Linked DNA regions of Homo sapiens: all the other regions are reported to be linked to region 1. Evidence: microRNA targets listed by miRTarBase, many of them from high-throughput screens and not tested one by one. Region 1 holds a microRNA gene; each other region holds the end of a gene's coding sequence.

Region 1 (4,000 bases):
AGGGCTTGATTATTGTGTCAGGAATCAAATTAATCTCCTAAGCATCCCTTATGGCCTTGGCCTTGCAAAGCCAGGCCTCTGCCATGCTCGGGGGAAGGGATGCAGCAGGCTTCCTGGGCAGAAGGATCCAGCTCTTGGCCTCCTTTCTCTGCTCCTCCCTCTACTGCAGGGACCTGCCCCTCCTCCATTTCCTCCACCTGGAAATTAATGAGCTTAGGTCTTGCCCCATCCGCTGCAGCTTGGTGGTTAATACAGAGCTGGAAATGGGATGAGACTGTGGCAGCGCAGTACGAGGGGGGTCTCTAGGACCAGCTGCTGCTCAGGGTCTAGTGATGGGAGGAAGGCCTGATTTGGGAAGCAGGTTCTTCAGGATGAAAAGCTTAACCCTTTCCATTCCCTGACAGCCTCTTTCAAAACAGTCTTTCCTCAGACCCCCAGTTGCACACATTCTGTTTTTCCTTCTGTTCACATTTTTAAAGGAACACATGTCTCCCTTGGGTCCATGTAGGTTATTGTGCCTCTCCCTTCCTCTGCAGCTCCTGGATCTCTGCCTGAAACTGCAATAACAGCTACAGGGAGGGCGTGAGGTGCTCCTTAGAGCCATGACCACGCTTTCAACTCCGATAGAGCTTGTGAACCCGCTGGGAGCTGGCTCCTTCTTGTCCACATAGCCCAACGACTTCCTTAAGCTTGTCAGGTGCTCTCAGCTCTACAGCAAAGTGTGACAAACAGCTCCCCCTCTCCCTTCCTACCGCCTGCCCTCCTCCCCAAACCTCAAGCAGAACACAATATATCCGCAGTCCAGGCCCTGAGGCAGTCTGCCAGTCTCTGGATGCCAAATTATTATTTTTTTAAGGGCAAACCAAAAAACTCAGCTCAGAACAAAAACACAGTCACGGAGGAAGGTGTTGACCCACATACAATGAGTCCTGAGCCCAGAGAAAAATCTGCACACACAAGCACTCCGCAATGCGCTCCCAGGCGACCCCCTCCCCACGCACACCGCATCTGTGCTGCACAGATCTGCTTCTGTCACAGAATCAGCTTCTGTTTCTCTCCCTGAGTCTGTTTGCATCTCTAAGCCCCTGTCTGTCACAGGCTGCACACCTCCCCACCCCACGGGCTCCGGTGCGGGACAGGCAGCCGGAGGGAGCTCCAGACCCCTCCCCTCGCGCCCGCGGCCGCTGCGCGGAGGTCTGCGGAGGGCGCCTGGCTCGGTCGGTCGCTCCTTCCTTGGCGGGCCCTCGCCGACCCACGGTGCTCAGCCAGCCCCATTCTTGGCATTCACCGCGTGCCTTAATTGTATGGACATTTAAATCAAGGTCCGCTGTGAACACGGAGAGAGAGGCCTTTCTCCTGAGGAAGGAAAGGAGGAAGGAAGGAAGGAAAGGTGAAAGAAAGGAAGAGGGGTGGGTAGAAGATGGAATAAGAAAACCAGGAAAAAGAAATAAAAAGCGGCGCGTGTGCGTGCGCACTGACAGCGGGGAGAGGGATGGGGGTGGGGAACGCCGGAGGAAGGGACCACAGCATCCTCCCCGCCGCAGCTCCCCCAATCACACAGACAATGAGATAACAGCGACGTCTTCCAAAGGCTCTTTGTTCTCCCCCATCCTTTCGCATCCAGGCTTTTTCCTGCAAAGCGGAGGGGGTGGAGGGATGGGGGTGTGGGTGGAAGTGGGAGACGGAGGGGTGCCTCCCCCGTGTTAATTACCCCGGCTCCCCTCGCCCCTTTCCCCGCGCCTCGCCTCCCCTGCAGCTCCAGACAATGAAAAAACAACATCGACCCCACCTCGCCCCAGCGCAGCAACCCACCCACCCATGTCGCCCTCTGCTTCGCCCAGGAAACTGAAGGGGACTAGGAGGAGGAAGAAGAGAGCGAAGGACAAGGAGAGCAGCGGGGACTCGGCAGCGGCAGCCGGGGCAGGGCGCGCGGCCGCCGCCTCTTTACCTCCATCGCTGAGTGGGGGCGCAGCCGGGCCGGGCGTGCCGCAGGGGCGAGTTGCCGCGGTCCGGGGCTGGGACCTGGGGATTCAGCCTTCCGGAACTCGCCTGCTGCAGTCCTCTCGCTCAGGTCCCAAGTGGTGGAGGGGGGAAAGGAAGAGAGACGAGAGAGAGAGAGACAGAGAGAGAGAGAGAGAGAGGAAGAAGAAGAAGAAGAAGAAAAAAAAACCATAAGAGCGAGGCCCATCTGGCCCCTCATCAGCTTTGTCAAGTCTTGCATACGCTAAAATGCTAATGACCTAGATAGCTCATGCAAAATGCAGCAGGGAGGGCGGGAGCGAGGGAGGTGGGAGGGAGGAAGAGAGAGGAGTGCAGGGGGGAGGGAGGGAGGAGAGGCGGAGGGAGGGAGAGAGGGAGAGAGCACCCCTACACTCTCCCCACCCCACCCCCAACTGTCAGCGGGCTTTACCAGGTAAAGGGTGGACGTAGATTTAAAAGGTCACTCGTGTATAATGCGGCTGGATCCCCGGGTCAAAAAAAGGGGGCGAGACAGAGGATGAGAGTCCCTAAAGCCAAAAGGACAATAAGACATCATTTTAAGCCCCCACCCCCATGCCCTCCTCCACCTCTCCACACTGTTTACACACAAATCCTGTCGCCGCCTCATGCATGTGCACGGACATGTCAATTTCTCATCAATTTCTCAGCGCTCCTATCGACAGACACCCGAATTCTCATTCCCAGCAAAACTCATCCACTGGACCCGAGGGAGGAGAAGACCCCTTCTCCTCCTCAGTGCTCTTCGGGCTGGCCCATCCCTACTCACCTCCATCTCCACTCTCTACTCCCTTAGCCCTCCAGGCAGCAGAGGGCTCCTTCTCTTTTCTAAGCCTTGAGTCCCCTGTCCCCTTTCCAACCCCCGCATCTTGAGAAGGAGACGCAGAGTAGCAGGAAAGCCAAGTCAAGTCCACCTAGGTCTCCCACAATTCAGCTACCCCTCCCAGAAAAAAAAAGAGACCCCAACAACCCCGACCCCTCTCCTACGTAGACACTGTGAAAGCAAGCCACAGGGACAAATAAAAGACAATCCGAATACCCTCAGCGTTCCGCACGCCGGGCGGACGCCCTTCCGCAGCGGCCACGCGTGTTCTGGGTTCAGCGCTCCTGCGCGTCCCTTCTCGCCGAACCCAAGGTGCTTTGTCCCGGCGGCCACACAAGGTCTTCGGCTTTTTGTTCTCCTTTTTTAAGAGACTGGCCGCAGTCCCCAGCGATTCAGCCGGCCCAACCAAAGGCAGTGGATCTACTGAAATGAAAAGGATCGAGATAATACACAGGCAGATGAATAAGGGGGGGGATGCTGGAGGTGCAGGAAGCATCCTGGGAGCGGCCGCCACGGCCAAGCCCGAACTGCTTGCTGCCTTCGCTGGGGAAGGCGCAGGAGGCGAGCCGGCGCTGGTGGTCGCTCCACCTGGCAGGAGGAAATGATAACCATGATAAGGAACGTGATGATGATGATGATGATGATGATGATGATGATGAGCATGATTTAAAAAAAATCAGTCTCCCTCTTGGTGAACCAGAGCATGCGTGCCGGAGGGACTGCACTGCTGGCGGCGGCGGCCGGGGGAAGGAGAGCGGCGCAGGAGGCAAAGGTTGAGGAGGCAGCACCCTCGGATGAATAATAACACCGCGCCGCGCAAGTTGCGGAGCCGCCTGGAAATCCAGCCCTTCGCGTGAACTCGCGTCGAGCGCGGATTGCAGGGGATGAGGAAGAAGGGGGAGGGGAGGGGAGGGTGGAGGAGGGAGGGGGAGGGGTAGAGGGGAAGGCAGAGAGGGACAGAGAGAATTGGGAGCCTTTTAATTTTTCCTTACCAAGCCCTAATCTCGTGCGCCGTCCTCTTTGGCTGAGGTCGAGCTCCTTTTTAAAAATTATTACTCCTTTAAAGGATTATTCAGGTAAAGGAAGCCGCATCTGCTGACGGTTCCGAAAACAAGAGGATTAGGAGCCCGTCCACAGATCCAGGCCCGCAGACCCCCACCCCCTCTGCACCAGCACACG
Region 2 (5,242 bases), not on the chromosome of region 1:
GCAAGGGCACCAATCCCATTCATGAGGAAGGAGCCCTCAGGGTCTAATCACCTCTTCAAGGCCCTGCCACCTAATACTATCACACAGGCAACAGCTGGATTTTGGAGGGGACACATTCGAACCATAGCAGGGTTAAGTCGTGTGCCCCAGGGTTGAAGTCCTAACCCCCAGTACAATGACCCTTATGCAGTAATCCCCACTTATCTGCAGTTTCAGTTACTCATGGTCAACTACAGTCCAAAAATATTAAATGGAAATTTCCAGAAATAAACAATTCATAAGCAGTGTCCCGCCCTGGATAGGAAGCGTCCCTCCGTCCAGCTACCTGCTCATGAGTCACTTGGCCACCATCTCATTGATCAGCTCGACCATTGCAGTGTCCCTGTGTTTGTGCTCAAGCAACCCTCACCCCCTACTTAACAATGGCCCCCAAGGGATGCTGGCAGTTGGGATCTGCCAAAGAGAAGCTTCCTTCCATGCTGACCGCCTGCCCTGGACAGCCAGCCCACCCTGAGCTGGGCACCCTGCTCTCCAGGGGCCGTGTTAGATGGAGCTGGGAGTGAGGGTCCTGGAGTGACCGCTGTCCCAAACTGAGGCTTGTCTCAGCACAGGGTCCCCTGGGTGCTGTGGGGTGGGGTGTGTTGAGCTACAGGCGGCAGATGTCTGCACATCGTGGGAGCCCCCTTCTAATGGCAGAGCTGTCCCTGGGAGGGAGGGAGGGAGCTGCTGTTGCTGGAGTAGAGGGGCAGGGCAGTGAGGGGTGCTTTGGAGGGAAGTCCCTGCACGGTCCGGGAGCTGGAGGTCACAGGAGCTGCCCCTGAGCCCTGCTCTTGGTTGGGAGTATGGCTGTGATGGAACCGCATGGGATTGGAGGACAAGGACGGAGTGGAGTCCAGGCACGTCCACTCGGCACCTGCAGGATCGCAGGCAATTCCATCCCTTTCCTGGCCTCTGCTTTCTCATCTGCCTGCCCAGCCTCACCTGGCAGTTGGGGTGGCCTAAGGGACTCCCCAGGGGAGGGCCCTGAACCAGGATGGCGCAGCCCCAAGGCCTAGCAGCTCTGTCTCTCCAAAGTCTATGCTGGGTGCCAACTGTTTGCCAGGCACTTCTAGATGCTGGGGTTTGGAAAGAAAACCAACCAAACTCCCTATCTTCCTGAGTAGACAGATAAAAACCCACAGGGGTGCACACAGCAGGCTGTGGAAGCTCAAGGAACCAAAGAGCAGGCAGAAGGACAGGCAATGCCAGGGTCCTGGCGAGGGGGCTGGAAGGCGGCACTGCGAGGAGGCGGTGCTCAGGGTCAGGTCTTCAGGGAGATGGCTGGGGGCCGAGGGCACAGCACATGCAAAGGCCCTGCGGTGGGAGCAAGCGAGGAGGCAGGCAAGGAGGAGAGGAGCAGGGCATAAACCAGAGGCCAGAGCAAGCGGGGCCTGTGGCCCTGGAGGCACAAGTAAGGTGAGTAGGGTGAGGCCTTTAGCTTTTGCTGAACGAGACACAGGGCAGCAGGGTTTTGTTTGTTTTTTGAGACGGAGTTTCGCTCTTTCGCCCAGGCTGGAGTGCAGCGGTGTGATTTCAGCTCACTGCAACCTCCACCTTCCGGTTTCAAGCGATTCTCCTGCCTCAGCCTCCCAAGTAGCTGGGATTACAGGCGCCCGGATGGCAGGGTTTTGACAGCGTCGCCATCACACTAGTTGCTGGGTTGAGAAGAGACTGCAGCGGGGCAGGGTTTGGAAAGAGCAGGTGGGTGGCAGCTGCCGGAATCCAGGGGAGATCATGGGGCTGGGACCAAGGTGATTTTGGGGTGGGCGGTGAGGCTTGTCCCATCCTGCTTATGTCCTGAGGGCGGAGCTGATGGATTTGCCAAGGACCAGGTATGCAAGGTGGGAGAAAAGAGCCAAGAGTGACTCCCAGGGTGCCAGCCCCAGCAGCCTGAAGCTCCTCTGAGATGGGGAGGTGGGAGGGACTGGCCTGGTAGAGACTGTGCAGAGCGTGAGACACCCGCAGCCGTACAGTGGGCCTGGGGGTACAGACAGAAGCCAGGGGCAGGTGAAGGCCGGCTGCGGGAGATCTGAACACAGACCTGGGCCTTCAGTGATTAGGTAGAAGAGAAGCAAGTCTGGAGCAGAGACCAGGGAGCAGCCACATTGGCAGGAGTGAGGTCCCAGGAGCCTCCTTTGGCAGGGGGTGTGGCCAATGTGTCCTCTGGTTCTGAGAGGTCCAGGTGATGACCGGGAGCACCCCGGGGATCTGGCCATGGGAGGTCACTACTGACCTGGTGTTCCAGAGGTGCAAAGGGGTGGGGAGTCGGACTGAAGAGAATCCAAAGAGGACAGGAGTGAGCCACGGATGCCGAGTGTGGTCTTTTGAGTGGCCCCCAGGAGGGCTCAGGCAGAGCTGACTTGAAACCTGCTCCCCTCCTCCCAAACTATTCTCCCCAGGGCAAGCCATGAAGCGGGACTGTGTGGCAGCCCTGCATGCCCTCCACCTCTCTGTCCCCTGGGGCACCGGACCCCACTTTGGCATTAGACCCCAGCCTCTGGCCACAGCTAACTGCCCAGGGGTCGGCCCCGACCCACTTGGCCAATCAGAGTCCCCCGTGCAATGCCAGGAGCTAGGACTCAGGGGGGCTGATTCCCCACCTCTTGTAGGGCAAGGTGTAAGCTCAGCGTGGCTGCAGGAGCGCCTGTACCCGCTGCTGGGGGAGAGAGACAGCGGTGATGTTGCCAGGCTGAGAGGCAGGAACCCATGAGGGAGCAGAGGGCACCACCTTGGGCTCTGCACAGTGACAGACCTGCTGGGTTTCCAAGACTTTCCACCCTCAATCCTAGCCCTAAAGGGTCACCCGCCGCCTCTGAGGACTGGGAATCGGGGGTGAGTGAGTGGAGGGCACTGAGCTCTCTCCCTGTTTCCCTCCCTCCATCCCTCCCTCCTCAGGATGGGAGAAGACCCTGATTTCCAGCCCCTCCAACGCCCACCTGGCTGCCCTGGGCACTCCCGGGGGCCTCTCCGCAACGCAAGGACACCAAAACCACAGGGCTTTGAAATCATCGATCGAGTTTAATACATTGTAAAGAAGGAAAACTACATTGGCGTATTTAAGACAAACACTTTTTCTCTATCCTCACTACCCACTGGACGGTCCTCCTTGGTCCAAAAAAAACCTAACAATCTCAAGACACATCGGCAGCTACCCCTCCCGGGTCCAACCTTTCAGATCCTCCCATTACACTGTTAAAACATGTAACTCAATCCATCCGCGAAGAAAACCAAACCAACAGAAAAGGAAGCTGAAGACATGGACATCGCAAGCCACGCGGTAATGCATACTTGGCACAGAGTAGCCAATATAGAAGACGTGTGCCTCACACGGTTCACTTTGTTCATCAATAAAAGAATATAAAAATCTTGTTCACCCAGTGGTAAGTGTATTAAAATAGATCTGTATCATACAGCACAGTTTCTCCCGGAGTCGTGAGAATGACAGGAGGGACCGTGGCAGCTGCGGGATTTGCCGGCCTCCTCGCTCTGCACCTCTGCGTGTGTGCATGCGTGTCTGTGGTCGTGGCCGCGTGCGATGCACACACGCGTGTTCAGTGCAATTCGGCACCATGTGATATGCTCGGGGTGGGAGCCCGTGGCTCCTGGACGCTTATCCTGTTGTGCTGAGTCCCTCAGGACTGGGATGTGGGAATCGGGCAAGGGTGACAAGCTGCCACTGCCCACCCTGGATGCAGAAGCCCTTGGCAGCAAGTCTGGTCCCCGAAGGCCGGAACCTCCCGAGCCACCGCCCTTTCTTTCCTCCCCAACCCTCCACCCGGCTCGTAAAAAACCTGCCGGATCTTCCAGCTTGGCCAGGCTTCCCGAGGGGAGGTGTTCCCATTTGTACCTTGAAGCAGAGACTACTAGAAGCAGAAAGGAAGTCAGCCAGAGTCCCCCCAACCATTCACATTAAATATCTCACAATAAAAACGCCATACAAAAGTGTGAAGTTATTTTTTGGCATAGTGTCTGCACTGGCAAGAAGGGAGGAGTGGAATACTTATCGGCTCTTCCAAAGGAGACAAGAAAGGGCTTCAGTCGTTAAGTTGAATGATTCAACCCCAAGGAGAAAACCTGCCAAATGCTGCCCCCCACAACAGGGTTGCAGCTCCACTCTGCCCAGAAACTCCATGAGAAAAACGCATCAACGGCAAACTGAGTCCAAGAGATTGGCAAAAGGAAGGAGGCAGCCTTGAGGACCCCAAAGACGGAGCAGGAAGGGCACAGGCTCTGGCGGGGATCACTGCAGCGTCCCGGCGCCCAGATGCTCACCTCCGACAGTGTCTTTCAAGTTAAACAGCTGCAATTCGTAACCCTAATAATACTGACAGAAAGGGGCCCAGGTGGTTCTGCAAAGGCGACGGAGTGCCCCAGGCCCGCCCGCCCACCCCAGGGGGACCTCCTAGGAGCGTGGGGCATTGAGGAACTACCTAGATCCACTACCCCGCTTCTCGTCCCAACTACCGCTACCACTCAGCTAGTCCATGTGTTCTCAGCTCGCCCTCCCACAGGACACCAATAGGCGGTGCCCTCAGTGGAGACTGCGTTCTGGGGGGCGTGCTTGTCCCCTCCACAGCCTCAGCCTGCCCCTCCAACGGGCCAGAGGGAGGCCGTGGAGAGCAGGGCCTGGAAGCCAGAGGCCCAGGCAGCCCCGAGGTGGCCGGGGGGAGACTGTGTGCCCCAGCCTGTCGTACCCCACCTGGCTCCTAGGTACCCCCTGTGAATTTGGAGGGCACAGGGCCGCACCCCCACCTGGTCCTGGCTCTAGGCCTCTCGCCCAGCTCTTCCTCCCTCCTCTCCTCTGTCTGGTTAATTTTTGTCTGAAATTCATAGTGTTTATGAATTAAGGCCGACAGAACCCCCAGGCTGTGTAAGCAGGGTCCCAATAACTTTCCGTGGGTATGAAGACTGGTCCCTCGGGGTCAGTTGTGGCCCTGGGGGTGCTGGACGGTGGGGTGTGTGGCTGCCACTGAGGGCTTGGTCCAGGGCCCGGCCAGCAGTGGGGCAGGGCTAGTGGTCGTCATGGTGACCTGGAGCAGCTGCTCGCCCTGTATCAGTCTCAGGAGGGCCCGCAGGCGGTCCAGGGATGACTGGGTGCCCCTCTGGCGGGCCAGCAGGCTTGTCTTCAACTCCAGGCATTTCTGTTGGGGAGAAGGTCAGGGGAAAGGGTCTCAGTATTCGGCTCTACAGCCATCCTGGGGCA
Region 3 (5,242 bases), not on the chromosome of region 1:
TAGTGCTCTAATTTTTGTTTTAAGGTGAATGAAGCTTTTGCTCCCCAGTACTTGGCTGTTGAGAGGAGTTTGGATCTTGACATAAGTAAAACCAATGTGAATGGAGGAGCCATTGCTTTGGGTCACCCACTGGGAGGATCTGGATCAAGAATTACTGCACACCTGGTTCACGAATTAAGGTATTTGCTAGAAATAGCTGCATTTCAGATTTGCTGTTTTTTATAGAAATGCATGGATTTAGGCTTCCCCAGAACACTCCAACATTTTTCATTCTTCTTCATGTCTCCTGCACTGGCTGTTACCAGGAACAAGTTACTTGGGCAGTGCTTTTCATCTGGTCTCATAGATGAGTCAGTCACCTTGTTAGTGGCTTTGCACTTAAGAACCAAGCTCTTCCTCTGTGTGTCCAGTCTCTGTGCACTGTGTGCCCCACTCAGCTTGTGTTCACTGCATGAGCAGATAATGAGGCCCTGCTTCTCATGGCACTTGTATTTTAGTGCCAGTTACAGGAGTAAAATAAATCTATTTTAGAAAAAAAAAGTACTGAGTGAGTACTGATCTAGATGCCATAATTTATGAAATCTAAGCAAACTGACATTTGGGTCTAAGTTTTTCTTTTCACTGCTTGCAGGGTTCCAGGAGGAACCTTTTGGGTGTTTGGTGCTTTTCAGTTTTGATAGATAGTACCAGAAGGAGGAGCTCTTCTATTTTTGGAATATTTTGCTCTGTAGAAAAATTGCAAACAAAACCAAGTAAGTCAGGCTGAAAAATTACTCTGACTCCCTGTTAGGCCAGGGGAAATGTGACTCTTATTTCACTTAATGATTCCCTGAGTTGAAATAGGTGATTGCCACATACAAAAGTAATTCCTGGATAATTTTCTCGAAGTCATCATATTAGGAGTGAGGAGTACTTTAAAAGAGTCTAATTTTTATGAAAGGGACATGGATAGTTTCTAAATTATCTGCCCTTTCATAGGGACAAACTTTATTAATTACATTTCTTCTAAGGTGCCATGAGGCTCTCACACTATATAAATCAAATATATAAATCAAAGGAGCTTAATGTTCATCCCCTTCCCCAGCTTCCCATTTATCCAGTTACCTCCTCTTCTCACTCCTTTCCCGTAACACACACAAGCTTCTGTATGTGTTTCATATACCCTAAATCTACTCTATAACCCTAAATCCACTCATCTCCTTTTTAGTTTGCCTCCCTCTTCTGGTGTTTGTTTTTGTTCTTTGTTTTTTGTTTTTTTTGATTAAAAACTTTCAGCTTTCCAAAGTCTGTTGCCTGTTGTAATTATACCAAAATTGAGGACTGGGGAAAAGATTGAGCAGATGAGCTGAATAAGGATGAGTAATGCAGATGTGATGTTATTAGTTCTATTTCATTAATCTGATTTTTTATTAGAGTAGATTTCAGTCACTGCTTTCTTTTTCAGGCGTCGAGGTGGAAAATATGCCGTTGGATCAGCTTGCATTGGAGGTGGCCAAGGTATTGCTGTCATCATTCAGAGCACAGCCTGAAGAGACCAGTGAGCTCACTGTGACCCATCCTTACTCTACTTGGCCAGGCCACAGTAAAACAAGTGACCTTCAGAGCAGCTGCCACAACTGGCCATGCCCTGCCATTGAAACAGTGATTAAGTTTGATCAAGCCATGGTGACACAAAAATGCATTGATCATGAATAGGAGCCCATGCTAGAAGTACATTCTCTCAGATTTGAACCAGTGAAATATGATGTATTTCTGAGCTAAAACTCAACTATAGAAGACATTAAAAGAAATCGTATTCTTGCCAAGTAACCACCACTTCTGCCTTAGATAATATGATTATAAGGAAATCAAATAAATGTTGCCTTAACTTCAGTTAATATTTTCCTGTCATTTATATTTTTAAAAATTTTAAATTGTGATAAGATACACATTACATAAACTTTACCATCTTAACCCTTTTTTAGCGTACAATTCACTGGTATTAAGTACATTCACATTTTTATACAAACATCCCCACTTTTTATCAACAGAACTTTTTCAGTCACCACACATGGAAACAATAACTCCTGATTCTCCCATCCCCCATCCCCTGACAACCACCAGTGTATTTTGTTTCTATAAATTTGATGACTCGAGGTACCTCATAAGTGAAATTATAAATATCTGTCCTTTCGTGACTGGCTTATTTTACTTTACTTTATATAATGTTCTCAAGATTCATCCACCTTATGGTGTAGCATGTGTCAGAATTTCCTTCTTTTTAAAGGCTGAATAATATTCTGCTGTGTGTATAAACCTTACTTCCTTCTTCCCAGCTTAAAGGCCATCTTTCATCCTTTATTTTCTCCCTTTAAAATGCCCCCACAACACTTCCATTGCTTTATTTGTCTGTTCTAAGACTGGATATCTAGTAGGGCAAGGCCCTATTCTTGTTAACTTCATCAAAGAGCCACTGGAAATTTTAATTAAGATTAAATTGAATTTATGGGTTATACATTTATTGGGGGGAAATTTTTTTTTTTTTTTTTGAGACAGAGTCTCGCTCTGTCCTCCAGGCTGGAGTGCAGTGGCGCGATCTCAGCTTACTGCAAGCTCCGCCTCCTGGGTTCATGCCATTCTCCTGCCTCAGCCTCCCCAGTAGCTGGGACTACAGGCGCCTGCCACTACGCCCGGCTAATTTTTTGTATTTTTAGTAGAGATGGGGTTTCACCGTGTTAGCCAGGATGGTCTCGATCTCCTGACCTCGTGATCCACCCGCCTCGGCCTCCCAAAGAAGTGCTGGGATTACAGGCGTGAGCCACTGCACCCGGCCTTTTTTTTTTTTTTTTGAGATAGCATCTTGCTCTGTCACCCAGGCAGAATTGCAGTGGCACAGTCATGGCTCACTGAATAATAGATGTTAAATAATACTAGATGTTAAATAATAGTATCATAAGTACCTACACTGTTTCCTCAACCCTTTGCTTATATGGTTTCCTTCATTTGATTAAAAAGCTGAAGTGGCACATACATCCCCCTTTCTGTCATAGAGAGGCAGATGACAAGCGGCCTACCCACGGTTTGGGATAATGGACTAGTGGCAACAGGCAAGTCCAGCTTTTATTGTTTGGGATCCTTACTGAGAAGCAGCAGGCTTCCTCTACTGTCATAAAAATATTAAAAAGTAAGAGCCCTGTATAATTTCTCATAATAAAACAATGTTTTGCAGAACATTTTGTTTTTTACATATTCTTCGTTTGTTGTAACTTATAATAAACTTTCTCTGGGATGAAATGACCAAGGTCACATGTTACCATCTTCTAGAAACACTAGTGATAGTTTATCAAGCCTATGAATTTCCAGATGAAGAAGGAATTGTCGCCAATAGCTGAAGCAATCCGCTTCCCAGGGCATCTCCTGGCACAGGCCTTGGTAAAGGTTTATCGCTTTTCCCCATAAAGGTCTTGTGTAGTTTTGTTATCCAACTGAGACCTTTTTCCTATTTTCTTTTACATTTGATTATTGCTAATGAATAGCTTTTGGATATTATATATCTAGCCAGCTTGTGGAACCCTTTTATTAATTTGAATCATGCAGATAGTATCTCATTTATTTTTATTGCCTTTTTGCCTTGTGCTGAGACCACTGGCGCAGTACTGGAGGAAATAAAATGTGGTAATGCTCATATTCGTTCCTCACTAAGTTGATGCTTACAGTAGGTTTCTGATAGATAATGCTTTATCAAGGTCAGGAAGTTTCCTTCTATTCTTAGTTTTCTTAAGGACTTTATGAGTGGTTCATTCATTCTTCACTCTAATCTTACTTGGCTGCCACCACTTAAGCCACAGTTCTCTTGCTCATGCCACCCTTTATGTTCATATTGCCAGAACTAGTGGAGATCTTTCTGTCTTCACCTTATTTGACTTCTCCAAAACATGACCCAGTTGACCACTCCTCCTTGAACTGACTTCTGTTCATGTCTCTGCTTTTCCACTGCCTCTCAGGCCATTCTTTTTCATCTTCTTGGGCAGCTGCTCCACTGCTGTGAGTTTCTTGGGATTGGTTTTTGGATTTGTGGCGATTTCTTTCTATGATTCTAAATACCATTACATTTGGCTGGGTGCAGTGGCTCATGCCTGTAATCCCAGCACTTTGGAGGCCAAGGCCAGAGGATCACATGAGCCCACGACTTCAAGACCAGTCTGGGCAACATAGTGAGACCACATCTGTACAAAACAAAAAACCAGAAAAATGAGCTGGGTGTGATGGCATGTGCCTGTAGTGCCAGCTGCTCAGGAGGCTGAGGTGGGAGGATTGTTTGAGCCCAGGAGGTTGAGGCTGCAGTGAGCCGTGATTGGGCCACTGCACTGAAGCTTGGATGACAGAGTGAGACCCTGTTTCAAAGTACATACATATATACATACATAATATATCATCACATTTACATCCCAGCACTGGTCTCTACCTCCAGACTGCTGTAGCAAACTCCCGTCTTGACTTTTCTCACAGATGTCTTCTTAAACATGCCCTGAGCAGTAACTTTTATCATATCCCACTTAACCAGCTCCCTCTTCAAGTTCTTCTCAGTGCCAGTAGCTCAAGTCAGAAATCCAGGCATTTCCCTCAGTTCTACCCTCTCCCTCACTCTTCATCTCCAGTCTATCAGCAAGTATTATCAGTTCTTCCAAGATATAGCTCAAATACATCCATTTCTTCCCCTCTCCACCTCCACTACTGTGGTCCTAAGCCACCAGAATCTCTTGCCTGGACAACCACAAGAGCTTTTAGAGGCTCCTACCTCCATTCTTACCCCTCTTCAGTCATTCTCTAAGAAGCCACCAGGAGCATCTTTTAAAAACTCAAACTATGGTGACTCTAACGTGATCTCAGGCCACTCCTCTAGCTCCCAGTGCTTCAGACAAATGGCCTTTCTGGGGACGGCTTGCACACCATGCTCTTTCATGCCATAGGGCTTTGGCAGATGTTCTTTCCTGTGCCTTCCTGGGCCTGGGTCCCGCTCACCAAGTCTCAGATGCTTCCTCTTCAGTCAGGTTCTCTGTTCTGTTCACCCTAAGTTCCTCGCCCTGAGACTTTCCACTGTAGCACCCTGACCTTTATGGAACTTTCCTGAATTCATATTCACTTAGTAGTCCATTTACTGTCTCACTCCCTCATTAGACTGTAAACTCCATAAAGGCAAAGACTTCATGTGTTTAGCACAGCGCCTGGCACATGGTAGATGCACAATAATGTTGTTGATGGA
Region 4 (5,242 bases), not on the chromosome of region 1:
TCTCAAAAAATGAAAAAGAAAGCAAACTGCCCCTTCTTGTCATGGCACCCTGGGCCTTGGTTTGCACGTCTTTAAAATGGGGGCAGTTGGCTGGGTGTGGTGGCTCACATCTGTAATTCCAGCACTTTGGGAGGCTGAGGTGGGAGGACCGCTTGAGCTCAGGAGTTCCAGACCAGCCTTGGCAACACAGCAAAACCCCTTCACTACAAAAAATATAAAAATTAGCCAGGTGTGATGTGCACACCTGTAGTCCCAGCAACTCAGGAGGCTGAGGTGGGAGGATCGCCTGAGCCCAGGAGGTCGAGGCTGTAGTGAGCTGTGATTGCACCACTGCACTCCATCCTGGGCAAGAGTGAGACCCTGGCTCAAAAAAAAAAAAAAAAAAAAAGGAAAAAAAAGCAGGGACAGTTGTCAGCGTCAGTTCTAGGGTGGTCGCGAGTTTGGAGAAGGGGCTGAACATATAGCACCTCCATCTGCTGCCTGGAAACTGCCTTGTTTCTATGGTTACAGTACCTGTGTTTAGCCCCATTCTTAGCCTTGTTGATCATGAGTGCTGGGATAGGGGATGAATTGAGGGGCTGTGGGAGGCTGTCCCTCTTCCTTCACCCCTCCCCATTTCTTTTCTTTTTTGAGATGGAATCTCACTCTGTCGCCCAGGCTGGAGTGCAGTGGCGCAATCTCAGCTCACTGCAACCTCCACCTCCTGGGTTCAAGCAATTCTTCTGCCTCAGCCTCCCTAGTAGCTGGGATTACAGGTGTGCACCATCATACCCAGCTAATTTTTGTATTTTTAATAGACATGGGGTTTCACCATGTTGGCCAGGCTGGTCTCGAACCCCTGACCTCAAGTGATCCACCTGCCTCGACCTCCCAAAGTGCTGGGATTATAAGCGTGAGTCACCGTGCCCGGCCCCCCTCTCCCCATTTCTGAGATGGCCCCTCCTCATTCTTTCTCTGCAGATTACCAACTTCGTACCAGCTAGAAGGGAGAAGAGATGGGGGCTTGAACACGGGGCTTCCTTACAGCCCCGGATGCAGATTTTAGAGGGAGGGCAGGTGCGGGCTGTGTGTGTCTGTGTGAGGGCAGGTCCTGGACTTGGCAGTTTCTTGCTCCCAGCACCCGCCCCTTCCTCACCTCTTCCTTATTCCATAGGCTGGGAGAGAAACTCTCTCTGCTTCCCTCGCCCTTGGAGCTTTCCCCATCCCCCTGATTTTATATGAAGAAATAGAAGAGGGGCTTGAAGTCCTCCTCGCGAGTGCCTTCTTGCAATTACCTGCCTTAGCGGGTGTTGCGGGTCCCTCCTTCACAGCCGCTGAGCCCAGAGGTCCCGCTGGCCCCTCCTCTGAATTTTAGGATGTCATTAAAAAGATGAATCTAGCCGCTGCCTATGTGCTTGTTTGGGGACATTACTGAAGTGCTGCAATGGGAGTGGGTAACACGTGTCAGTCCATTCCTCAGTCCCGGGTCATGGCCCTGGTCCTCTGCTGTTGCCTTTGCTTCCCACCTCCACGGTCTGTTCCCCCAGTAGCCGCTAGAGGGCGCGTGTTAGCATCGCTTCTTTTTTCCTTTTTTCTTTTTTCTTTTTTTTTTTTTGAGACAGTCTCACTGTAGCCCAGGCTGGAGTGCAGTGTCGCGATCTCGGCTCACTGCAACCTCCGCCTCCCAGGTTCAGGCAATTCTCCTGCCTCAGCCTCCCGAGTAGCTGGGATTATAGTCGTAGTCGCCCACCATCACGCCTGGCTTTTTTTGTCTGTTTGTTTGTTTGTTTTGTTTGAGACGGAGTCTCAGTCTGTCGCCAAGGCTGGAGTAGTGCAGTGGTGCGATCTCGGCTCACTGCAGCCTCCGCCTCCCGGGTTCAAGCGATTCTTCTGCCTCAGCCTCCCGAGTAGCTGGGATTACAGGCGCCCATCACCACACCTAGCTAATTTTTGTATTTTTAGTAGAGACCGGTTTCACCATGTTGGCCAGGCTGGTCTCGAACTCCTGACCTCATGATCTGCCCGCCTCGGCTTCCCAAAGTGCTGGGATTACAGGCATGAGCCACTGCGCCTGGCTTAATTTTTGTTTTTGTTTTTGTTTTTTTGAGACGGAGTCTCGCTCTGTCGCCCAGGCTGGAGTGCAGTGGCGCGATTTCGGCTCACTGCAACCTCCACCTCCCAGGTTCAAGCGATTCTCCTGCCTCAGCCTGCTGAGTAGCTGGGATTACAGGCGTGCGCCACCATGCCCCACTAATTATTGTTATTTTTAGTAGAGACGGGGTTTCACCATGTTGGTCAGGCTGGTCTCAAACTCCTGACCTCATTATCCGCCCGCCTTGGCCTCCCAAAGTGCTAGGATTACCGGCGTGAGCCACCGCGCCTGGCTTAATTTTTTTTTTTTTTTGAGACAAGAGTCTTGCTCTGTCGCCCAGGCTGGAGTGCAGTGGCGTGATCTCGGCTCACTGCAAGCTCCGCCTCCCGGGTTCATACCATTCTCCTGCCTCAGCCTCCCAAGTAGCTGGGACTACAGGCGCCCGCCACCACGCCTGGCTAATTTTTTGTATTTTTAGTAGAGACGGTGTTTCACCGTATTAGCCAGGATGGTCTCAATCTCCTGACCTCGTGATCCGCCCGCCACGGCCTCCCAAAATGCTGGGATTACAGGCGTGAGCCACTGCGCCCGGCCTGTATTTTTTAATAGAGATGGGATTTCACCATGTTGGCTAGTCTGGTCTCGAACTCCCCACCTCAGGTGATCCACCCGCCTCAGCTTCCCAAAATGTTGGAATTACAGGTGTGAGCCACTTCGCTCGGCATTCCTATCTTATTAAAGCCATGGCCTGGTCGGGCGTGGGCGACAGAGCAAGACTCTGTCTCAAAAAAAAAAAAAAAAAAAAAAAAAGGCCGGGCACGGTGGCGGGCGCCTGTAGTCCCAGCTACTCGGGAGGCTGAGGCAGGAGAATGGCGTGAACCCGGGAGGCGGGGCTTGCAGTGAGCCGCGATAGCGCCACTGCACTCTGGCCTGGGCGAGTGAGACTCCGTCTCAAAAAAAAAATTAAAAAAAAATTAAAATAAATAAATAAATAAAAAAGCCATGGCTTGATTTGCACAATTGCCATCCTGATACCCCACCTACCTGCTCTCCCCTGCTCTGTACCACACCAGGCACGCTCTCACCTCTGGGCCTTAGCATCTGCTGTGCCTCCCAGCTGGTGTGCTTTTCCCCATATAACCACAAGTCTCCCTCCCTCACCTTTAGGTCTCAAATCAAATGTCACCTCTTCAGGGAGGCCCTCCCTGCCTTTGCGTTTCTTTTTCTTTTCTTTTCTTTTCTTTTTTTTTTTTTTTTGAGACAGAGTCTCACTCTGTTGCCCAGGCTGGAGTACAATGGCGCGATCTCGGCTCCTGCGACCTCCGCCTCCTGGGTTCAAGCGATTCTCCTGTCTCAGCCTCCTGAGTAGCTGGGATTACAGGTGCGTGCCACCAGGCGCAGCTAATTTTTTTTTTTTTTTTTTTTTTTTTGAGACGGAGTCTCGCTGTCGCCCAGGCTGGAGTGCAGTGGCGCAATCTCGGCTCACTGCAGGCTCCGCCCCCTGGGGTTCACGCCATTCTCCTGCCTCAGCCTCCCGAGTAGCTGGGACTACAGGCGCCCGCCACCTCGCCCGGCTAATTTTTTATATTTTTGGTAGAGACGGGGTTTCACCATGTTGGTCAGGCTGGTCTTGAACTCCTGACCTCGTGATCCGCCCACCTCAGCCTCCCAGAGTGCTGGGATTACAGGTGTGAGCCACCGCGCCCGGCTTTTTGCCTTTCCGTTTCAATGGCTCATCTGGTCAGTCCTCTACCACTCTAAAAAGATTTAACTATTGGCGGAGAGCAGGAGCTCACGCCTGTAATCCCAGCACTTTTGGAGGCCAAGGCAGAAGGATCCGTTGAGCCCAGGAATTCGGGACCAGCCTGGGCAACAAAGCAAGAACCCCAACATAAAAAAAAAAATCTGTATTTAAAAGCCAAACACAAATAACAAACAAAAAACACCAGCCTGGGCAACATAGTGAAACCTCATATCTACTAAAAACACAAATTAGCCGGGCGTGGTGGTGCGCCCTGTAGTCCCAGCTACTCGGGAGGCTGAGGCAGGAGGATCACTTGAGCCCGGGAAGTCGAGGCTGCAGTGAGCTGTGATCGCGCCACTGCACGCCGGCCCGGGTGACAGGAGTGAGACCCTGACTCAAAAATAAATACATATATAAATAAAAATTAACTATTGTCTCTGGCCCCAGACCATAGGTGTCCCTGCAGCAGGGGCCGACTGGCGTGCTCTCCACTCGGGCCCCTCTAGGAGGTGCTAAGTAAATATTTGAACGAAGACCTCTGAGTCCCTGTCTGGCTGCGACTATGTCCTCTCAGGCCTTCCCACGTGGCAGCTGCAGGCTCCTTTCCTGCTGGCTCAGTCTGAGCCCGGCAGGGTGATCCCTTCCTCATCCACTCCGTCTCTCCGTTTCCCTTTCTTCACGGTGCTTGACACTATCTAATATTATTTGGTTGTTTGAATGTGCGCGTCCAGCTCCCAGGACGCTCCCTGCACACAGTGAATGAATAAATGAATGAAATAAAGCGCCCAGCTCGTAGTAAGGGCCAATGAATGTCTATTAGTAGTGGAACCTCGGATTGGGTGGCTCCAGCCCTGCCTCCCTTCCCTCAGGAGGCGCCGAGGTCCCAGAGCAGCCCGCGCGACCCTGCCCCTGACCTTTCTCCCTGGGTCAGTTAAACCAGCCTTCTTTCCCGCCTGCCGGGTTCATTTGAAAACCGAAAACCCCGCCATTGCCGGCGGTCCACCGGTTGCCACACTCTGACCAATCAGGAGCGACGCGTTTCACGCCGAGCCCGAAGTTTCCCCGGCGACGCGCAGCCACTGGTTATGCAGGCCCTGTGGGCGGAACGCCGTAAGGTCGCGCGCCGGGCAACGCGGTGCCGCTACACAGTAGCGAGTTTGTAAGAAAACAAATCAGTTGCGTTCGGGGCGTGGCCGGGAGCACGTTGGCTCCGCCCCCTGGCGGCTGCCTCAGCGGCGGCGGCGGCGCAGGCTCAGAGCAGACCCCGCCCGGCGAGGAGGAGGGAGGGTGAGTTAGGGGGAGACCCGGCCCCCAAGGGGCGGGCGCCGGGCAGGGCCCCGCGGGCGGCCGAGGGTTGGGCCCGGCTCCCAGCCCCTCGCCGTCCTCCGGCTGACAGGGGGAGGAGCCCGCCGGGAGGGCCGGGGTCT
Region 5 (5,242 bases), not on the chromosome of region 1:
TTTCAGCCTTGTGTGGCTGATGGCAAACACCTACTACGTGGTAGCACATTGTGGGTGCTGCCCCATTGAAGAGCGTTACAGCATTGCCCCAGGGCAGTCTCATTGTCATTTGTCACAGCTGAAAATAACACTCTGCCAGGTGCCCTGGCTCACGCCTTTAATCCCAGCGCTTCGGGAGGCTGAGGCCGGTGGATCACCTGAGGTCAGGAGTTCGAGACTAGCCTGGTCAACATGGTGAAACCCCGTTTCTACTAAAAATACAAAAATTAGCTGGGTGTTGTGGCTCACGCCTGTAATCCTGGCTACTCGGGAGGCTGAGGCAGGAGAATCACTTGAGCCCAGGAGGCGGAGGTTGCAGTGAGCAGAGATCGTGACATTGCCCTCCAGCCTGGGCGGCAAGAACAAAACTCTGTCTCAAAAGAAAAAAAAAAAAAAAAAGAAAACAGAAAATAACACTTACTTGGCTTTTATGAAATAAGATTCACTTTTTTAAAGTACGAATGTAAAATATACCTGTCTCATTTTACAAAGGAGCTTGTTGAGGCCCAAGGAGACTGAGTACCTGGCCCATGAGCCCACGGTCCAATCTGGCCAGATCTTCTAGCACCCCACTTCCAGGGAGAAACGCCAAGGATCAGAGAGGTCAAGTGTCTTGCTTGAGCCACCCGGCTGGGAAGTAGCAGGGCTGGCATTTGAATCTAGGCAGTTGCCCTAGAGGTTATACGCTGAGCCCCTACCCTCTACTCCCCAGACACCACTCTCAGAGCAGTGGGCAGGTTTTTGAAGATCTTTGCGCAGAGGCGTGGCCCAGCCTGGCTCAGCCTCCTCCAGGCAGTGTGGTTAAGGGAAGGGTATGGCCTGGAAGTCAGAAGCCTGGAGTCGTACCCAGCCTCTGCCCTGGACCGCCTGTGTGGTTCTGAGGAGTCATATCACCACTTTGCGCCTCCATTTTCTCCTCTGTAAAATGGGACTAGCAGCCCCTTCCTTGGAGCTGCTGTCTTGGGCTTCTGCAAGGATCCCACTGGAGAACAGATTTAAATTCTGTTGAGGACCCTGCTGACATGAGGCTGGGATGATCTTTCCCTGGATGAGGGAAGGATCCTAATCTTGTTTTTCTTTCTTTTTTTCTTTTCTCCATCTCCAAACCAGAGTCATGATGTTTGAAGGAAAAGCCAACGAGAGCAGCCCCAAGCCAGTTGGCCCCCCTCCAGAGAGAGACATTGCTAGCCTGCCCTGAGGACCCCGCCTGGACTCCCCAGCCTTCCCACCCCATACCTCCCTCCCGATCTTGCTGCCCTTCTTGACACACTGTGATCTCTCTCTCTCTCATTTGTTTGGTCATTGAGGGTTTGTTTGTGTTTTCATCAATGTCTTTGTAAAGCACAAATTATCTGCCTTAAAGGGGCTCTGGGTCGGGGAATCCTGAGCCTTGGGTCCCCTCCCTCTCTTCTTCCCTCCTTCCCCGCTCCCTGTGCAGAAGGGCTGACATCAAACCAAAAACTAGAGGGGGCAGGGCCAGGGCAGGGAGGCTTCCAGCCTGTGTTCCCCTCACTTGGAGGAACCAGCACTCTCCATCCTTTCAGAAAGTCTCCAAGCCAAGTTCAGGCTCACTGACCTGGCTCTGACGAGGACCCCAGGCCACTCTGAGAAGACCTTGGAGTAGGGACAAGGCTGCAGGGCCTCTTTCGGGTTTCCTTGGACAGTGCCATGGCTCCAGTGCTCTGGTGTCACCCAGGACACAGCCACTCGGGGCCCCGCTGCCCCAGCTGATCCCCACTCATTCCACACCTCTTCTCATCCTCAGTGATGTGAAGGTGGGAAGGAAAGGAGCTTGGCATTGGGAGCCCTTCAAGAAGGTACCAGAAGGAACCCTCCAGTCCTGCTCTCTGGCCACACCTGTGCAGGCAGCTGAGAGGCAGCGTGCAGCCCTACTGTCCCTTACTGGGGCAGCAGAGGGCTTCGGAGGCAGAAGTGAGGCCTGGGGTTTTGGGGGAAAGGTCAGCTCAGTGCTGTTCCACCTTTTAGGGAGGTTACTGAGGGGACCAGGATGGGAGAATGAGGAGTAAAATGCTCACGGCAAAGTCAGCAGCACTGGTAAGCCAAGACTGAGAAATACAAGGTTGCTTGTCTGACCCCAATCTGCTTGAAACCTGACTCTGCTTCTCTCATTTGTCTTCCTACCCTACTCACATAATTCACTCATTGACTCACTCATTCACCAGATATTTATTGACCTGCTATTATAAGCTTTACATCCTCCCATGTTGTCCTGGCATGTGCAGTATACACGGTCTAACTCATCTCTCCCCAGATCTCTCAGAACCTTGAGCTTGGGAATTGAACTGGGGTCACCTGTGTCCTTTCTTATGGACTCGCAGGATTTTAGAACCCTAATGCACCCTGGAGGGTAGCTGGGCCAGACTTCTCATTTCACAGGTGAGGAGACTGGTGCCCCACAGGGATTAAGTGCCTTGCCCAAGGTCAGGCTTATCTCCAGAGGGAGGTGCCCTGGACTGGGGCCCAGATGTTCAGGGACCCTGCCTACACCTCATTTCCAGTGTGGGCTGCCTTAGTTAGTTATGAGAACAGGGAAGGGCTGGGAAGAGACAGCCTCCAAGGTCAACACTTGGAGAGGGTTTCACTTGCTCTGAAGACCCTGGTCCAGGATTCGCCCTCTCCCATGCCTTCAAGTCAGCATCAGGCTTAGGGCAAAGACCAGGCCTCTGAAGCTGCCTCTTGTAATTCATGCAGGAAGATGTCAAAGTCAGCCCCATCTTGGCTGATCAGGGTGTTCAGCCTTAACCCCACCTGTGTTCTGAAGTCTCTTACCCTACCTGCTCAGGACTGAGACAGTTATTCACTGAACATATTTATTAAGCACTTGCTGTAGGCCAACAGTTAAGAATCCAATAATGAAATGGACAGATTCATGGAACTTAGAGTCCAATAGGAAAGTGAGACCCAGACAATGACAATGAGATAAATGTTAGGAAGGGGGAGGTATGGGGTGACTTCCCTGCAGTCCTGGGGGCCTAGATGGGCCCAAGACTGGGTGAGAGTCTTGGCAGAGCCTTTGCAACACCTTAAGTGGACAGGACTGGGAGGTCTTGGTGGTTGGAGCCAACGTGGGTTCCCTGCGGCTCCTTAGTCACCTCTGATAGCAGATTGAGGGAGGAAAACAGGTAAGGCATGAGGAAATGGCCAGGTTGGGTTAACCCACTGGTTTCAACCAGTTCAGGAATGAGGTTATTTGGCCATGACTGGCTGATCTTGAGCTCAAGGATCTGCTTCAAATGCACACAGGCCTAGTTGAAGTTTAAACCCCAGCAAAACATTCCTCCCTGTAAATGGAAAATCCTACTTCTACCCCCACCCTGCCCTGTTTTTTGTTTTTTTTTTCCCCAAGATCATTAGATGTCCTCACCCCTCCTCACTGCCTCTCCTCTCTGGGACAGGCTGGGACCTTTGAGGAAGATAAAGCCTTCCTTCACTACCCATCATATTCAGTGTCCCTGTTCCTCACTCAGAGAGGAAGGCAGAACCAGTCAGGCTTATTTCAGTAAGTTCCACAGTTCTACAAGACTGCAGGAATTCTCCTTAAGGGAGGAGAGCAAGCAGGTGTGGCCCCAGCTTCTGGAAATGGCAGAAGAGAGGGTTTTCTCATTGAATGGGGGTGGGGGCTCGTGTGTCCTGGGAAACCCCATCAGTCCCTTCATTTCTTGAGACTCAACTCCTGGGAGGAGAGGGTCTCAAGAGTTGTCCCTGGAAGGAGGGCGGGGGCAGTCTGCATCTATTTCAGGTTGTGGCTCTTGGTTCTAGGACTCTTACTTCTCTGGCTAAGGGCTCAGCTTCTTGGGACTTCAACCATCTTCTTTCTGAAAGACCAAATCTAATGTAACCAGTAACGTGAGGACTGCCAAGTATGGCTTTGTCCCTATGACTCAGAGGAGGGTTTGTCGGGCAAATTCAGGTGGATGAAGTATGTGTGTGCGTGTGCATGGGAGTGTGCGTGGACTGGGATATCATCTCTACAGCCTGCAAATAAACCAGACAAACTTACCAACGTCTTGATTGGTGTATTTTGGGGCTGGTTCTGGGCTCAGCAAATTGCGAACTAGCTAATATAGTAAGAGATTAAATGAGCATGTCCTGTGCCTTTTGTCTGAGACAGCTGAAATTCACTTATCCTAACCACCTCCCTGCAAGAGACAGGTTCTATTATGTCATCCTTGTTTCACAACTGAAAAGTAGGCTTGAATAAGCAATGTGCTGCAAGCCAAACAGTAAATGGCACAATCCGACCCCCCTGGAGCCAACCCATGAGGTCCAAGTTAAGAACCTCTGTCGGCCGGGCGCGGTGGCTCACGCCTGTAATCCCAGCACTTTGGGAGGCTGAGGTGGGCGGATCACGAGGTCAGGAGATGGAGACCATCCTGGCTAACACGGTGAAACCCCGTCTCTACTAAAAATACAAAAAATTAGCCGGGCGTGGTGGCGGCCGCCTGTAGTCCCAGCTACTTGGGAAGCTGAGGCAGGAGAATGCTGTGAACCCGGGAGGCAGAGCTTGCAGTGAGCCGAGATCGCGCCACTGCACTCCAGCATGAGTGACAGAGTGAGACTCCGTCTCAAAAAAAAAAAAGAACCTCTGTCCTAGAGCATTTATAATTCACTACAGAAATGTATTCTATGAAGGACTTTAATACCATCAGTCAGCCTTATCCAGACGATCTCAATTCTAATCCTGTCACCACCACTTTCTGACTGAGGGCTATTGGAGAATTTTCTCAACTTCTCTGTGCCTCCCTTACCTCATCAATTATTATTATGTATGTGTATGTGTGTGTGTGTATATATATATATATGTGTGTGTGTGTATATATATATGTGTGTGTGTGTGTGTATATATATATATATATATATATTTTTTTTTTTTTTTTTTTTTTTTTCTGAGACAGAGTCTCACTCTGTCACCCAGGCTGGAGTGCAGTGGCACAATCTTAGCTCACTGCAACCTCCACCTTTTGTGTTCATGCGATTCTCCTGCCTCAGCCTCCTGTATAGCTGGGAACACAGGCGTCCGCCACCACACCCGGCTAATTGTTGTATTTTTAGCAGAGACGGGGTTTCACCATGTTGGCCAGGCTGGTCTCGAGCTCCTGACCTCAGGTGTTCCACCCACCTCGGCCTCCCAAAGTACTGTGGTTACAGGCGTGAGCCACTGCTCCCAGCCTATTTTTATTTA
Region 6 (5,242 bases), not on the chromosome of region 1:
TCAGTAGTACCTAGATAGCCCTCATTAATAACTATGGTTGCCGTCACCCATTCCCCTTCCCAGGAAGTGAATTTTTCAGCTGCCAGAACTGTGAGGCTGTGGCAGGGTGCTCATCGGGGCTGGACTCCTTGGTTCCTGGGGACGAAGACAAACCCTATAAGTGTCAGCTGTGCCGGTCTTCGTTCCGCTACAAGGGCAACCTTGCCAGTCATCGTACAGTGCACACAGGTAGGGGAAGAGAGGGCCCTGGCCTTCAAGCCCACAGCTGTCCTAGGGCAAAGTCCCTGATCTCCCATGTTCTCTGCCTCCAGGGGAAAAGCCTTACCACTGCTCAATCTGCGGAGCCCGTTTTAACCGGCCAGCAAACCTGAAAACGCACAGCCGCATCCATTCGGGAGAGAAGCCGTATAAGTGTGAGACGTGCGGCTCGCGCTTTGTACAGGTACGGAGCCAGCCTCCAAGTGGCTTCCAAGGCAAACCTGCAAGAGGTGGGGTGGGCCAATAGGGAGGGTTCTGTTCCTCCCAGAGGCAGGACTTGAAGTCTCCTCCCTCCCAGGTGGCACATCTGCGGGCGCACGTGCTGATCCACACCGGGGAGAAGCCCTACCCTTGCCCTACCTGCGGAACCCGCTTCCGCCACCTGCAGACCCTCAAGAGCCACGTTCGCATCCACACCGGAGAGAAGCCTTACCACGTGGGTACCCAACCTGGCCTGCCCACTGCCTTAGAATTACCTCTCCTTTGCCTAGGGGTGGGCTCTGAGAGGTGCGGGCCTGGCTGTCCCTAGATCTCTTAGAAATGAGCGGTGGCCGGAAGAGTCCAAGCAAATAAGGGGTGGAGGCTGGGAGTCAGGATGGGCAGGTATAGAAGTGATGCTCCTGGGCTGAGCACTGTTTTCTCAGAGAGGAGCTGAGAAGTGGGAAAACCTTTGCTAAATAAGGCGGGGCCTATCCCCTCAGCCACCCCTGAGGATTTGGGAGGATGTGAGAGTCAAAGAGCTGATCTTCCGCTGGATAGTTCCCACCTGGGAGAGCTGGACGGCCGCCCGGCTCAACACCTAAAAGGTGATTGTGGATGGGGCAGGGCCTGACTTGGCTGTCCTCCCACAGTGCGACCCCTGTGGCCTGCATTTCCGGCACAAGAGTCAACTGCGGCTGCATCTGCGCCAGAAACACGGAGCTGCTACCAACACCAAAGTGCACTACCACATTCTCGGGGGGCCCTAGCTGAGCGCAGGCCCAGGCCCCACTTGCTTCCTGCGGGTGGGAAAGCTGCAGGCCCAGGCCTTGCTTCCCTATCAGGCTTGGGCATAGGGGTGTGCCAGGCCACTTTGGTATCAGAAATTGCCACCCTCTTAATTTCTCACTGGGGAGAGCAGGGGTGGCAGATCCTGGCTAGATCTGCCTCTGTTTTGCTGGTCAAAACCTCTTCCCCACAAGCCAGATTGTTTCTGAGGAGAGAGCTAGCTAGGGGCTGGGAAAGGGGAGAGATTGGAGTCCTGGTCTCCCTAAGGGAATAGCCCTCCACCTGTGGCCCCCATTGCATTCAGTTTATCTGTAAATATAATTTATTGAGGCCTTTGGGTGGCACCGGGGCCTTCATTCGATTGCATTTCCCACTCCCCTCTTCCACAAGTGTGATTAAAAGTGACCAGAAACACAGAAGGTGAGATCACAGCTCTGCTGGCAGAGATTACTAGCCCTTGGCTCTCTCGTTTGGCTTGGGTATTTTATATTATTTCTGTCATAACTTTTATCTTTAGAATTGTTCTTTCTCCTGTTTGTTTGCTTGTTAGTTTGTTTAAAATGGAAAAAGGGGTTCTCTGTGTTCTGCCCCTGTAATTCTAGGTCTGGAACCTTTATTTGTTCTAGGGCAGCTCTGGGAACATGCGGGATTGTGGAATTGGGTCAGGAACCCTCTCTGGTATTCTGGATGTTGTAGGTTCTCTAGCAGTCTAGAAATGGATACAGACATTTCTCTGTTCTTCAAGGGTGATAGGAACCATTATGTTGAGCCCAAAATGGAAGTAATAATAAATGCCTCCTGGAGGCTGTGGGTGTGGGGGATTCTGTATCTGGATTCCGTATCACTCCAAGTGGAGGCTGGCAGGTTTTTCTGCAAGATGGTCCAGAATCTAAAATGTCCCATTAATCTGGTCACTTGGGTTTGGCTCTGCTGTATCCATCTATAGTGGTAGAGACCCACCAGGGCTCAAGTGGAGTCCATCATCCTCCCACGGGGGCCTGTTCTTAGCACTGAGTTGATCGCTCCATGGGGGAGAGATCAGACATTCCTTATCAGAGATGATGTGACCTTTTCTGACTCTGCCCAGTCTCTATGAATGTTATGGCCTAGGGAAGAATCATGAAACTCTTTAGCTTGATTAGATGGTAAACAGTGTTAACCCATCCTTTACTACAGAGGCATATGGGTTTGAATGTTACCTGGGGTTCTCTCTATTGAGTTGAGCCCCTTCTTCCTTTAGTGGGTTTTGGACATCTTCTGGCAAGTGTCCAGATGCCAGAACCTTCTTTTCCTCTAGAAGGGATGGTGCTTGGTAACCTTACCTTTTAAAAGCTGGGTCTGTGACCTGGTCTTCCCATCCCTGCATTCCTGTCTGGAACCAGTGAATGCATTAGAACCTTCCATAGGAAAAGAAAAGGGGCTGAGTTCCATTCTGGGTTTGCTGTAGTTTGGTTGGGATTATTGTTGGCATTACAGATGTAAAAGATTGACTAGCCCATAGGCCAAAGGCCTGTTCTAGTTGACCAAGTTTCAAGTAGGATTAAGAGGTTGGTTGAGGGGTGCAGTTTCTGGTGTAGGCCAGGTAGGTAGAAAGTGAGGAACAGGGTTGCCTCTTGGCTGGGTGGAGTCTCTGAAATGTTAGAAGAAGCGCTGAAGCCTTGATTGATAGTTCTGCCCCTTGTTGCCCTGGGGCTTATCTGATTATGGGACGAGGGTAGAAAGTAAGAAGCACTTTTGAATTTGTGGGGTAGAACTTCAACAATAAGTCAGTTCTAGTGGCTGTCGCCTGGGGACTAGTGAGAAAGCTACTCTTCTCCCTCTTCCCTCTTTCTCCCCATGGCCCCACTGCAGAATTAAAGAAGGAAGAAGGGAAGGCGGAGGAGTCTATAAGAAGGAATCATGATTTCTATTTAGCAGATTGGATGGGCAGGTGGAGAATGCCTGGGGGTAGAAATGTTAGATCTTGCAACATCAGATCCTTGGAATAAAGAAGCCTCTCTGTGCTGCCTGCTGTGTCCTGGGTTCTTGCCTTGGGGGACTCGGGGAGCGAGGAAGAGAGCTCTTCCTCCTGGATAACATCTTGGATTCTGTACCATTCCACTGTCCCTTCCCACCAGACATTTTAAATGGTCCTCGTTGTCCCCTTCCCTGCCCTTGCCTTCCTGCTCATTGTGTAGGAACCAGTGACTTCATGAAGTTTCTCCGGAGCCACCTGCATCCTGCTGCTCTGAAGTCACTTCCTGCCTGAGGTGTGGAGGCTGCAGGGAGAAACCAGGAAGCCACTAATAATATCAAGAGGCCGGGGCGTGCATCTGTGCTGGAGATCTTAATGCTGGCGACATGCCTCCATCACCAAGGAAGATGGATAAGAGTTGGGTCCCGTAAAGACCACAGGGGCTGGAGGTGGCACTGAGAAGACTGAGTTAGAACTAACGGGCCAGCCCACCCTCCCCCAGCAAGGGTATCTTGAATCTATCCAGGGTCCAGTGCATGCATCTCTCCCACCCTTTCCCCTGTCCTGTGTGTGTGCTGGGTGCGGAGGTCACTAATTCTGATATTACCTTCCTCTGGGCCTTAAATTCCTCATCTGTGAAAAAGTCAGTTACCATGATCTCTGCAGCTACCTCCAACATTGAAAGTTTGTAGTTGTCTTAATCTGTCTTCTGTTGCTTATTATAGAATACTGAATCTGGGCAACTTATAAAGAAAAGGAAATTATTTCTTACAGTTACGGACACTGAAAATTTTGCCCAAGGTCAAGTGGCCACATCTGGTGGTGGTCGTCTGGTTGGTGGGGGCTCTCTGCAGCACAGGAAACATTGCCAGTGTGCAAACATTGCCAGTTCAGGTCTCTCTTCCTCTTCTTATAAAGCCACCAGTTCCCCTCCCGTGATAACCCATAATCCATGAATGGCAGAACCCTCGGGATCCAATCCAATCATCTTTTTTTTTTTCTGAGACAGAATCTCGCTCTGTCTCCCAGGCTGGAGCGCAGTGGTGCAATCTCAGCTCACTGCAAGCTCCGCCTCCCGGGTTCACACCATTCTCCTACCTCAGCCTCCCAAGTAGCTGGGACTACAGGCACCCGCCACCACACCTGGCTAATTTTGTATTTTTAGTAGAGACACGGGGTTTCACCGTGTTAGCCAGGATGGTCTCAATCTCTTGACCTCGTGATCCGCCCACTTTGGCCTCCCAAAGTGCTGGGATTACAGGTATGAGCCACCATGCCCAGCCCCCAATCATCTCTTAAAAGCCCCAGCTCTCAATACCGTCATGTTGAGAACTAAAAGTTTCCATATGAATTTTTAGAGGAGACATGCAAACCATAGCATTCTGTCCCTGGGCCCCCAAAACTCATGTGCTTCTCACATACAAATACATTCATTCCACTCCCATAATCCCAAAGTCTTCACTCATTGCAGCATCAAAGTCTCATCTGTGAGCTAGTTATCTACTTCCAAGTTATGGAGCAAGTTATCTACTTCCAAGATATAATGGTGGGAACGAGCATAGTGTACACATTCCCATTCCAAAAGGGAGAAATAGGCAAAAAGAAACGGGTGAAACAGGCCCCAGGAAAGTCTGAAACCCAGTGAAACCCAGCAGGGCCAACATGACACCTTTTTTTTTTTTTTTTTGAAAGGAATCTAGCTCTGTCACTCAGGCTGGAGTGCAGTGGCGCGATCTCGCTCACTGCAACCTCCGCCTCCCAGGTTCAAGCGATTCTCCTGCCTCAGCCTCCCAAGCATCTGGGATTACAGGTGCCCACCAACACACCCAGCTAATTTTTGTATTTTTAGTAGAGATGGGGTTTCACTGTGTTGGCCAGGCTCGTCTTGAACTCCTGACCTCGTGATCTGCCCGCCTCGACCTCCCAAAGTGCTGGGATTACAAGCGTAAGCCACCGCACCCGGCCAACATTGCGACTTAAAGGTAGAGAATAATCTTTTTTGACTACATGTGGCACCTCCTGGACACAGGGTGGGAGTTGGAT

The links. The annotated mature microRNA hsa-miR-124-3p reads UAAGGCACGCGGUGAAUGCCAA and lies in region 1 at 1,278-1,299, opposite strand. An mRNA with a match to its seed (bases 2 to 7 or 8) in the 3' UTR can be bound and repressed. Matches are read on the target gene's strand: a 7mer-m8 pairs with bases 2 to 8, a 7mer-A1 pairs with bases 2 to 7 and ends in A, and an 8mer does both.
Region 2: miRTarBase lists PHF21B as a target of hsa-miR-124-3p. The part of its 3' UTR that is shown has no 7-base or 8-base seed match.
Region 3: the mRNA of ACAA2 is a reported target of hsa-miR-124-3p. Seed matches in the 3' UTR shown: 7mer-A1 at 1,820-1,826 and 7mer-A1 at 1,860-1,866.
Region 4: miRTarBase lists AP1M2 as a target of hsa-miR-124-3p. Seed matches in the 3' UTR shown: 7mer-m8 at 1,257-1,263 and 7mer-A1 at 1,276-1,282.
Region 5: the mRNA of AIF1L is a reported target of hsa-miR-124-3p. Seed matches in the 3' UTR shown: 7mer-A1 at 1,393-1,399, 7mer-m8 at 2,467-2,473 and 7mer-A1 at 2,566-2,572.
Region 6: the mRNA of BCL6B is a reported target of hsa-miR-124-3p. The part of its 3' UTR that is shown has no 7-base or 8-base seed match.

The regions. Positions count from the first base shown.
Region 1 is chr8:9,902,122-9,906,121 of GRCh38, forward strand. MIR124-1 (microRNA 124-1) reads right to left here and starts at 1,351; the gene lies at 1,267-1,351. It overlaps MIR124-1HG (MIR124-1 host gene), which reads right to left and starts at 1,208. Exons shown (of 3, transcript NR_024281.1): 1 at 1-1,208. It overlaps LOC124902057 (a long non-coding RNA gene), which reads right to left. Exons shown (of 4, transcript XR_007061170.1): 2 at 3,038-3,241; 3 at 2,411-2,507; 4 at 1,949-2,066.
Region 2 is chr22:44,878,125-44,883,366 of GRCh38, forward strand. PHF21B (PHD finger protein 21B) reads right to left here. Exons shown (of 13, transcript NM_138415.5): 13 at 3,038-5,180. The coding sequence ends at 4,962. Among named protein-coding and RNA genes, the nearest start is that of ARHGAP8, 130 kb to the left of the region's middle.
Region 3 is chr18:49,780,134-49,785,375 of GRCh38, reverse strand. ACAA2 (acetyl-CoA acyltransferase 2) reads left to right here. Exons shown (of 10, transcript NM_006111.3): 9 at 25-179; 10 at 1,445-3,212. The coding sequence ends at 1,529. Among named protein-coding and RNA genes, the nearest start is that of ACAA2, 31 kb to the left of the region's middle.
Region 4 is chr19:10,568,807-10,574,048 of GRCh38, reverse strand. AP1M2 (adaptor related protein complex 1 subunit mu 2) reads left to right here. Exons shown (of 12, transcript NM_005498.5): 12 at 961-1,378. The coding sequence ends at 983. It overlaps CDKN2D (cyclin dependent kinase inhibitor 2D), which reads left to right and starts at 5,070. Exons shown (of 2, transcript NM_001800.4): 1 at 5,070-5,242. RefSeq lists a silencer at 4,804-5,242.
Region 5 is chr9:131,119,086-131,124,327 of GRCh38, forward strand. It overlaps AIF1L (allograft inflammatory factor 1 like), which reads left to right. Exons shown (of 6, transcript NM_031426.4): 6 at 1,150-4,059. The coding sequence ends at 1,237. Among named protein-coding and RNA genes, the nearest start is that of NUP214, 3.9 kb to the right of the region's middle.
Region 6 is chr17:7,026,394-7,031,635 of GRCh38, forward strand. It overlaps BCL6B (BCL6B transcription repressor), which reads left to right. Exons shown (of 9, transcript NM_181844.4): 6 at 64-228; 7 at 312-442; 8 at 557-694; 9 at 1,110-3,251. The coding sequence ends at 1,226. Among named protein-coding and RNA genes, the nearest start is that of BCL6B, 6.0 kb to the left of the region's middle.